2 linked regions of the Homo sapiens genome follow. The protein of the gene in region 1 purifies or fractionates together with the protein of each later gene. This does not show direct contact. Each region holds a gene or a part of one and is shown in the gene's direction. Other genes may lie near its edges.

The links. The genes of interacting proteins can lie anywhere in the genome.
Region 2: the proteins of CRYBG3 (region 1) and SLC25A25 purify together in Homo sapiens (co-immunoprecipitation; one large-scale study listed by IntAct). This does not show direct contact.

Annotation. Positions count from the first base shown.
Region 1 is NC_000003.12:97,869,690-97,874,733, forward strand, and holds part of CRYBG3 (very large A-kinase anchor protein), read left to right. Parts: intron 1-2,152; coding exon 2,153-5,044.
Region 2 is NC_000009.12:128,099,232-128,102,731, forward strand, and holds part of SLC25A25 (mitochondrial adenyl nucleotide antiporter SLC25A25), read left to right. Parts: intron 1-1,864; coding exon 1,865-1,991; intron 1,992-2,077; coding exon 2,078-2,165; intron 2,166-2,848; coding exon 2,849-2,884; intron 2,885-3,138; coding exon 3,139-3,250; intron 3,251-3,500. UniProt on the Homo sapiens protein: Electroneutral antiporter that most probably mediates the transport of adenyl nucleotides through the inner mitochondrial membrane.

The DNA of each region.
Region 1 (5,044 bases):
ACTAAAACCATTTTTGGAACACAAAGCTTTTCTTTATGCATCTCCTTTAGTGCTTTATAATGGACAATAAAAATAAATGAATATAACTAACATAATTTTTTACAATACTGGTGCATTAGTATTTTAAGGGGCCAGGAGATATATAGGTTGAAATGAATTATTTCAGCTAAAATTTAAGAAGTATTTAAGAGACACAGTTGGTGAAGTTTTTACATGTGAAAAGAGATATACTTTCTCTTTTATCAATTAGACAAATCTAGAATTCTTAATGTAACTGCTTTAAAGTTGGCAATAAAATGTATTTTTTAGGTATTGGAATACTGATAACTGAATTTCGAAATTATTCATGTGTATTTCACAGTAATGGTTTGGTTAATCATATGTTTAATCAGAAAAAAATCAAGTAGAACACACATCAGATTTTTCTACCATACTGTTTTTTTAAAAAATAATTTCAACTTTTATTTTAGAGTTGGGGTGCATATGCAGGTTTATTACATGGAGATAAATTGCATGTTGTGAGGGTTTGGTGTACAGATTATTTCGTCACCCAGGTAATGGACATAGTACCTGACAGGTAGTATTTTAGTCCTCACCCTCTTCCCATCCTCCCCACTCAATTAGGCCCCAGTGTTTATTGTTCCCTTCTTTGGGTCTATGTGTACTCAACGTTTACCTTCCACTTATATGTGAGAACATGTAGTATTTGGTTTTCCTGTGTTAATTCACTTAGGATAATGGCCTCCACTGCATTCATGTTGTTGCAAAGGACACGATTTTCTTCTTTTTTATTGCTGCTTAGTATTCAATGGCATATATGTACCACATTTTCTTTATCCAATCTACCATTGATGGACATCTAGGTTGATTTCATGTTTTTGCTATTGTGGATAGTGCTGTGATGAACATATGAGTGCATGCTATTTTTTATAGTCAGGAAATTGAAAGGTAATTAGAGTTCAAAATGTAAAACATTTTGATTATCACATATAAGAATTAAGACATTCTTTTGAAATAGATTACTTAGCAGTAAGTATCATTCCTTTACTTATTCATTAATTCATGAGAAGGTATTAAGCATATACAACTTGCCAAATCTTGTGTGGGGCACTTAAAAACAGAAAGATGATTAGGACACAGTACCTTCCCTCAAATAGCCACCAGGCTAGTGGGGAAAATAAATAAGTGCATAGATCTTTATGATTTAATGTGACAAATGTTGTGCTCTGTGCACCCAGAGATCAAAGACTAACTGTCCATCTTAGTAGTAGAGGGATAGGTTTGCAGTGGAAATTATTTGTGTGCTGAGTCTTAGAGGGCATTAGAGTTTCCTTCTGATGCTGGCATTAAAGGGCAGAGAATGATGTGTGTAATTGGCTATAAGATAGTATGGCGTGATGTGAGAACTCGTAGTGGTAGATTCTCCAAAGGAAATTGGGTGCTGAGAGCATCAGGATCTTTATACTGTGGTTAGATTTCTATACTTACTCTAGACATCTTTTTTGATTTTTGCATTTGCCCAAGCAGTTTAATACTATACTAAATGAATATTTGAAGAACTGAACACAGAGAATTTTAATGCAGTTTTGTCATTTATTGAGTTAACAAATACATACTGAGTGTTTACTGTGGGCTAGACATTTTGCCATCTGTTTTCATTTAAAACGTTTCCAAGTTACGTGCTAAACATTGCTGTTCAAATTCACATGTAAGAGTAAAGGAATAGAAGGTCATTATGATGCTTTAATGTGGTGGAGAAGTCAGTGATGTATCCCTAAACTCGTAGTAATATGAGGCCCAAAGTCAAGCTGGTTACTTAGAGTCAGACACTCCTTTGAGATTAGAACTAGGACCCAAGGCTTGGACTCATATTCTGTTAACCACAGTCAGAGGTATGTATGTAATCAGGTAAGAAGGAGTAATTCTAAGGAGGTCAAACATTCTTCATGCTGCATTGACATTCAGGTGCTACTTGTTAAATTTTTATTATTTTTAATAAAGGTAAATTTAAAGCGTTCTAGGATTTACTCCCCAAATTGGTACATATTAAGGGAAGTGGTGTTTAAAAGATGTACTTTTACCACAGTTGCTGGGATTAGTATTAAGTATTATTAATTATATTTCCTGATACTCTCATGCTTTCTTTTTACAGACAAATCGATGGTAAACCAGAGAAGCCTTCAGTAACATATGCAACATATCGAGGCCCAAGACACATTGGGAAATATTTAAAGCAACAGACAGGCTTGGCAACTGTGAATACCTTGGACAGAGAAAATGAAAGTTCTGACTCTAGTACAAACAGACACATTGACCCTGGAAGTGAGATTGAGGCTGGGGTACTGCCACTGTTGTTATCAGCTAGTACAGACTCATCTATGAAAGGAAATCTACTTGAAGGCCCATTAGAAGACTCTGATTGTAGCAAAACAAGTTTCAACAAGGAAAATTCTTTGACAAATAACCCAGAACTGCAGAATATTGCCTCTTCCAATAATCTTTTAAATAAAAATGCTTGGGGGAGTATTGAGAGAAATAGGTCATCCCCTTCTTCTGTGACTAACTCCAGCTACGATGGAGAATCTGACTCACAGCACCATTTAAGTTGTGAACCGGTTTCTCAGACTAACAGAAATTTGGTATGTTCAGCATTGTTAACAGGAAGTAACCATCGCAAAGTCCCTTGCAGCCCAGATTTTCAGAGAGTAACTACAACAGAAAATACGATAAAAGAAAACAGCACTGTGATGAGTAATAGGACATTGGTGCAAAGAGAGGAGCTTGTTGAGCCTCAGGGCCCTGCTATTTCTGATTTCTCTTGTAGTAAATCTGATGGGAGTGACACTACTGAGCAGGAAAGTACAAATTTGCCAAGTCCAAATAAATCAATTAGGCATGAACATCTGCAGTTGCCAGAGAGTGAGTGTTCTGACAAGCAAACCATAGATAGCTCATCAAAGCAAGCTGCCACTCACACCAATATCATTGCTCTTCAGAGACATGCTGTGACAGACACAGAATTTGTAAATGAAGGAAAGAGATTGTCTGCCCAAGACTCACAGAAAAATGTGGCTGTTAGAGAAATCAGGCGAGAAACAGAAAGTGCCTCAGCTGGTGAATCCATAGCTTCAAGTCATGTAAAAGCTCCAGAAGATAAAATTGAGTCATTACCCAAAGATACTGACCAATACTTTGAAACCAAAGCCAAAAAGCTTGATTTTAGGTCACATGATAAAATTCCTCATATTAGAATGAATAAAAAAGACCTGGCCTCTTTAAATTACATCAGTGAATCAGCAGTTGTAGCAAGCTTAGGAAATGAAAATGCACCTGAGTTGAAATTTGAACTTAATAGAAGTCACATTTCAGAAACTCCTCTTGACTCTGAGAGTCCTCAACAAGCTGAAGTATCACCTGATGCTAAAACATCTCTTAGCCTTGACTGTAAAAAACTAAATTTCAGTATTTCACCTCCTACCTTTGTTTCTGGAGTTGGGATGCTGAGCAAGTTGGATATTCCTGATTTAATGAATGAGGGTTCTCCTGTGCCCATTGAAACTGGGAATGTCAACATTGTTGGTATTTCCTATCAGCCTAGGAAGTGTAAAGAAGAAAATGTGAAAAACCATGTTGAGGCTGCAGGCAGGAAGAGTCCTCCTCCTTCCTTTTGCCTTGAATATACATCTGCAATTTTTGAATTCAAAGAAGTTCTTTCTAATAGTGAAAAATGCCAGGTTCTTCCAGGTTCTGAAGCCAGTGGCCCTCACTTAACTGGGTTGGAGCTATTGAGCTTTGACTCTGGAAACCTCTCTAAGGATTGCAGTTCCATTTTATCTCAAGACCCTAATAGAGTAGAGTTAGTGTCTTCAAACACTAAAGCAAATATGAGCATAATAGAGAAGTCTGATTCTCTTTCCTTGGAAGCCAAAACTGCTAACATTGTATCAAAAGCTGAAATTGATGGTCAGAACAATGTTCTTGTGGAGTCACATTCTGGAAGAGGAAAAACTATATCCTTGTCCAAGGTATCTCTTTCAAAAGTGGAGCCCAGAAACATTTCTCAGGATAAAATGTCTTCTTTTCCATTGAAAATTACCCATGTTCCAGAAAAGCCTATTTTGTCAGAATTAACCTTTCTAGAAGTTGAACAGGGCAAACGTTTTCAATCAATTAATCATAATGAGATAGGAGAGAAATGTTCAGATGCTGGCCTTAAAGAGAATTGCCAAGCTGAGCTTTCTCCTGCTGCCTCCAAATATGAAGATAAGCCAGAACCAGAGGTAGATGCCTTAGGCTCTCCTCCTGCTCTTCTTAAAAGTAATATATCTTGGATTTTACCACCTATTCATGATGAAAAAATCAGTAGGCAAATGGCGCAGAATTGTGAAGCTCACACTTGTGTGTTTCATCAATCTTTGGATATTTGTGGGACTAAAAAGATTTCTGGTCACTCAGAAATGGCGGAACTCAGCTTAACTAATATTTCCCCTAAATTCCAAGAAACTGGCAGCATGAAAGTAAATTCACCTTTTCTGGATTCTGATTCCAGTTTGGAAAAAAATTCTTCTGCATCTGAGGACTCAAGCTTCCTTAAAGTACCTTCTGTGCTGAAATTGGAAAAGAAATCCTCATCTTACAGAAAGAAAGAGAACATCCATTTTTTAAATGGTGGTATTGATAGTGTGTCATCTTCCTCTAGTTACCCTGAAGAAGTTAGCATGATAGTAAATTCACATAAGCCCCAAAATAATTTGGATTCTATACAAGTTACCAAAGATCTCACACATGAAGGTACCTCTGTAACTAACCTGTTGTACCCTACTACCTCTTATTTGGAATTTGAAACGTCTGTCTCAATTGGGACAGAAGTAACCCCATTTCAGGAACATTTTGGGATTTATACTGGGAAGATATCCATTGATTTCCCAACTGCTGCCCAATTTGACAATCTCGTGGAAGCAGAGACTGGAGCAGTTGCTGGGCCTGCAGCGTCAGTTAACAGCTCAGGCCAACAGTGTTCTGAAGCCTCTGCTGAGCACATAGA
Region 2 (3,500 bases), on another chromosome or scaffold:
CCACCTCGGCTTCTCGGTTAATCAGTTTCCCTGCTACCCCCAGTGCCCACTGTGCACCAAGGGGGATTTGCAGATCCAAGGAAGGAGACAGAAGGAGGCCCAGGCCCTGTGAGGCAGAAGCAAGCACTTTGAGAATGCGTTGAAGCCAGCTGCGGTGAGCACACCCTCTGCTCTGGGTGTCTGCGACAGCACCCACCCCAGGGAGGCATGTGGCTCACCCTGGCAGCAGGCGGCTGGGTCCCAGAGGGCTCCATGCCTGATGTTCGCCTCCTGCCTAAATGGCTTGTCCACTCTATTTCCATTCCTGTTAGAGATTTGGAGCAGTCACCCTATAGGTGATTTATGTCACTCTTGTCTGAGAGCACAGATGTCCACAGGAAGTTAAATGTAACCTCAGCAGATAAAATATGTACCTGCATCTGTCCTACATTCCAGCCACGCCCCTCACATTAGCCTTTTGATCGCGCCAGGTCATGGGGTATCTGTTCAGGCCTCCCTGCCCCTGACACCTTTGGCAGCTGAGGAATCACAAGGCGCTGTCAGTAGTGTGTCTAAGAGAGAGGCGCGGTGGTGATCCTTTGAGGACGCGAGCTAGCCAGTGGGCCATCCATTTCCAAACCCCAGCTGGCTGTCAGTTGATTTCTCCCAGTGAGAAATCCGGAGGACACAGGAAGACTATACCATCTTCCTTGGGAGATTCTCGGTCCCAGTTTTGGGTTCCGGATTCAGGGCGTTGCTGAGTTGGGGTGACTCACTTTCATCCCCCATGTTCTGAAGGTTAGCCTTGAGGGTGGCGGCAGGATGTGCAGGGAGGCGGCTTGGGAGGACCACGGCCCAACTTGCATCCCGCCCACCACTTCCCTAGCTGTCTGACCTTGTGTAAATGTTTAGGCTCTCGGAACTCCTGTTTCCTTCTCTGTAAAATGGGGGAAATGACATTTCCTACCTCCTAGAGCTGTTTGCGAGGGGGGTAAGTGGGTTGCTAGAAGTAAAGCATTTGGCACGCCCTGCGGCCGGTGCTAGGTGCTGGGGAAATGTGTGCTCTCGTGGAGCTGTCCCAGTTGCCAACCATTAACAGCTGCTGAACAAAGCCCACCTCCTGGGAGGCGGGGGCGGGGGGGGTTACTTTTGGAACCTCATTGCCAAGGAACAGTCTCTCAAAGCCTTCTTGGGACACTAAAGTGCTTTTCAGTGAGTGAGCGGGAGAGCCAGGGCAGCTCTATCACCTGGCTTCCCTGAGAGCAGGGACTGGCAGTACCATCATACACATGCCCTTGGCTCCTTACACTTCCCCGGCCTCGGGTGCTGTGGCAGAGTCTGGCTCTGCCCCCGATTTTCACCTGCCCACCAAATTATTCTCGGACCAATGCCAGTTTTAGGAGAGAAACAGCGAGCTGCAGAGTTCCTGTCAGAAACTGGACTCCATGGCCATCCCCAAGTCTCAGCAGGGAGCATGTGTGGTTGAAGCCTGGGTCCAGGGACCCAGGGACGGCGCTGCAGCGAAGCCACCCTGCTCACCCTGGCTGTACGGCACGCAGGTCTTCAGACTGAGAAAGTGCCCAGCTGTCCCTGTCGGCCTCTGTCCGGAGGGCTCTTCCCAGGCTCCTTGTTTCCTCTCTGCTTGAGAGGGAGACAAGATTGGCCCTTGCCTGGGTTCTGGCCAGCACCTGGGGTTCTAGGTGGTGGCTCTGGCATGTAAGTCGATTGCCATGGTGGCTCTGAGAGTGGAGCAGAAGCATCTTGGGTCCTTGGGGCCAGCTCTGCTCGCAATTAGTGAAGTCATTGCCTGGGGATGGGGCCCCACAAGGGACAAGGAAAGGCTGGTCCAGGAGCCAAAAGACAAAATGTTACCTTTCTTTTCTAGAAAATTGTACAAGCTGGAGATAAGGACCTTGATGGGCAGCTAGACTTTGAAGAATTTGTCCATTATCTCCAAGATCATGAGAAGAAGCTGAGGCTGGTGTTTAAGAGTTTGGACAAAAAGAATGATGGTAAGTGTTGCCTTCAGAGCTGTGGCCGGTCCAGCCTCGGGCCTCCCCGTGCGCCTGGCTCCTGCTCACGGCCTCTGTTCTTGCAGGACGCATTGACGCGCAGGAGATCATGCAGTCCCTGCGGGACTTGGGAGTCAAGATATCTGAACAGCAGGCAGAAAAAATTCTCAAGAGGTGAGTGCTCAGCCAGCCTCTGTGTTTGGTTTAAGTGTGATGAAGGGAAGGCTCTGAGACTAACCCTCCGATGCCATTCCCTGGGCTGACCCTGAACTTGGCCTTCTCGTGGTTTGAAAGGATGAATAAGTAACCCCTGTGGGAGGCCAGCCCCTCCCCAGGGTTGCAGGCCTGCTTTCATTGGAAGAATCACAGATCACCTGGAATTTTGCCCATCGGCCAGTGGCCCATGAAGGGAAAACTAATTTGGGGGTGGTTCAAATAGGTAAAAGGCCAGCAAGGAGCACCTGTGCGTGTGGAGGGGGCGGGGCGGGGCGGGGGGCTCACACTGCAGCCTCGTTCCCAGGTGAATTTCTTCCCCATGCTGGTAACTTGCACTTAACACTTTAGTCAGAGGCGCTGCCCCAAAAGATAGCTCCCTGGTGCGGGGCGGCTGCCAGGAAATCTCATGGAACAGCCCTGGGAGTTGCCGTCTGTCCTGGCTGGACCTTCCGGAAACCCTGCGGTCTGAACACTGGCTGGTCCTCGGGGACAGCAGCCCTGGGCTCAGCTGCTGTGGCGGGCTCGTCTCGTGCCGTGCTGTGCCCCTGTCTCTGGGTGTGTGCTTGCTTCACTAACATGGCTCCGAGCACTTATGCGTGTTGTTTCTGCTCTCTCCTCCGCATCCTTTGTCTGTCTGTCAGAATACGAACGGGCCATTTCTGGGGCCCTGTCACCTAGTAAGTATCCATGTCGCTCATGACTGCCTCCCTTGACTTCCATGCCTGATCAGAGCGGGATTCTTGTGGGCCATTATATTGCCATTGTTGTGCTAAGTGGGGTGTGGAGCCCCCTGCTCTTTCTCCTGGGGGCAGAGGCACCTCGTGTGGTTTCTGGGCATCCGAATGCCTGCCCTTGGCTCACTGGGAGGTGGGGGGATGCAGCTGGCGGATGGGCATGTGGGCACGTGGGCAGCCTCGCCTCTGTCTTGCAGCATGGATAAAAACGGCACGATGACCATTGACTGGAACGAGTGGAGAGACTACCACCTCCTCCACCCCGTGGAAAACATCCCCGAGATCATCCTCTACTGGAAGCATTCCACGGTGAGCCCCACGTGCCCAGGGCCCTCATCTGCTCCCAGGGACCCTTAGCCCAGAGTCACCCAGTCGTCCCCATCCCAGAGTGCAGCTGGGGCTTTCCAGCCACCTCCTCTTCCACAGGAGACTGTCCCCTCTTCTGCCAGCCCAGTAGAGCTGTCCGCATGTTCCCCATGTTCTGGCACTCCAGCCAACCTGAACAGCCCCATCGTTCACACACACAGGCTTCCTCTTCCAGGAACACCCTCCGTCCCCA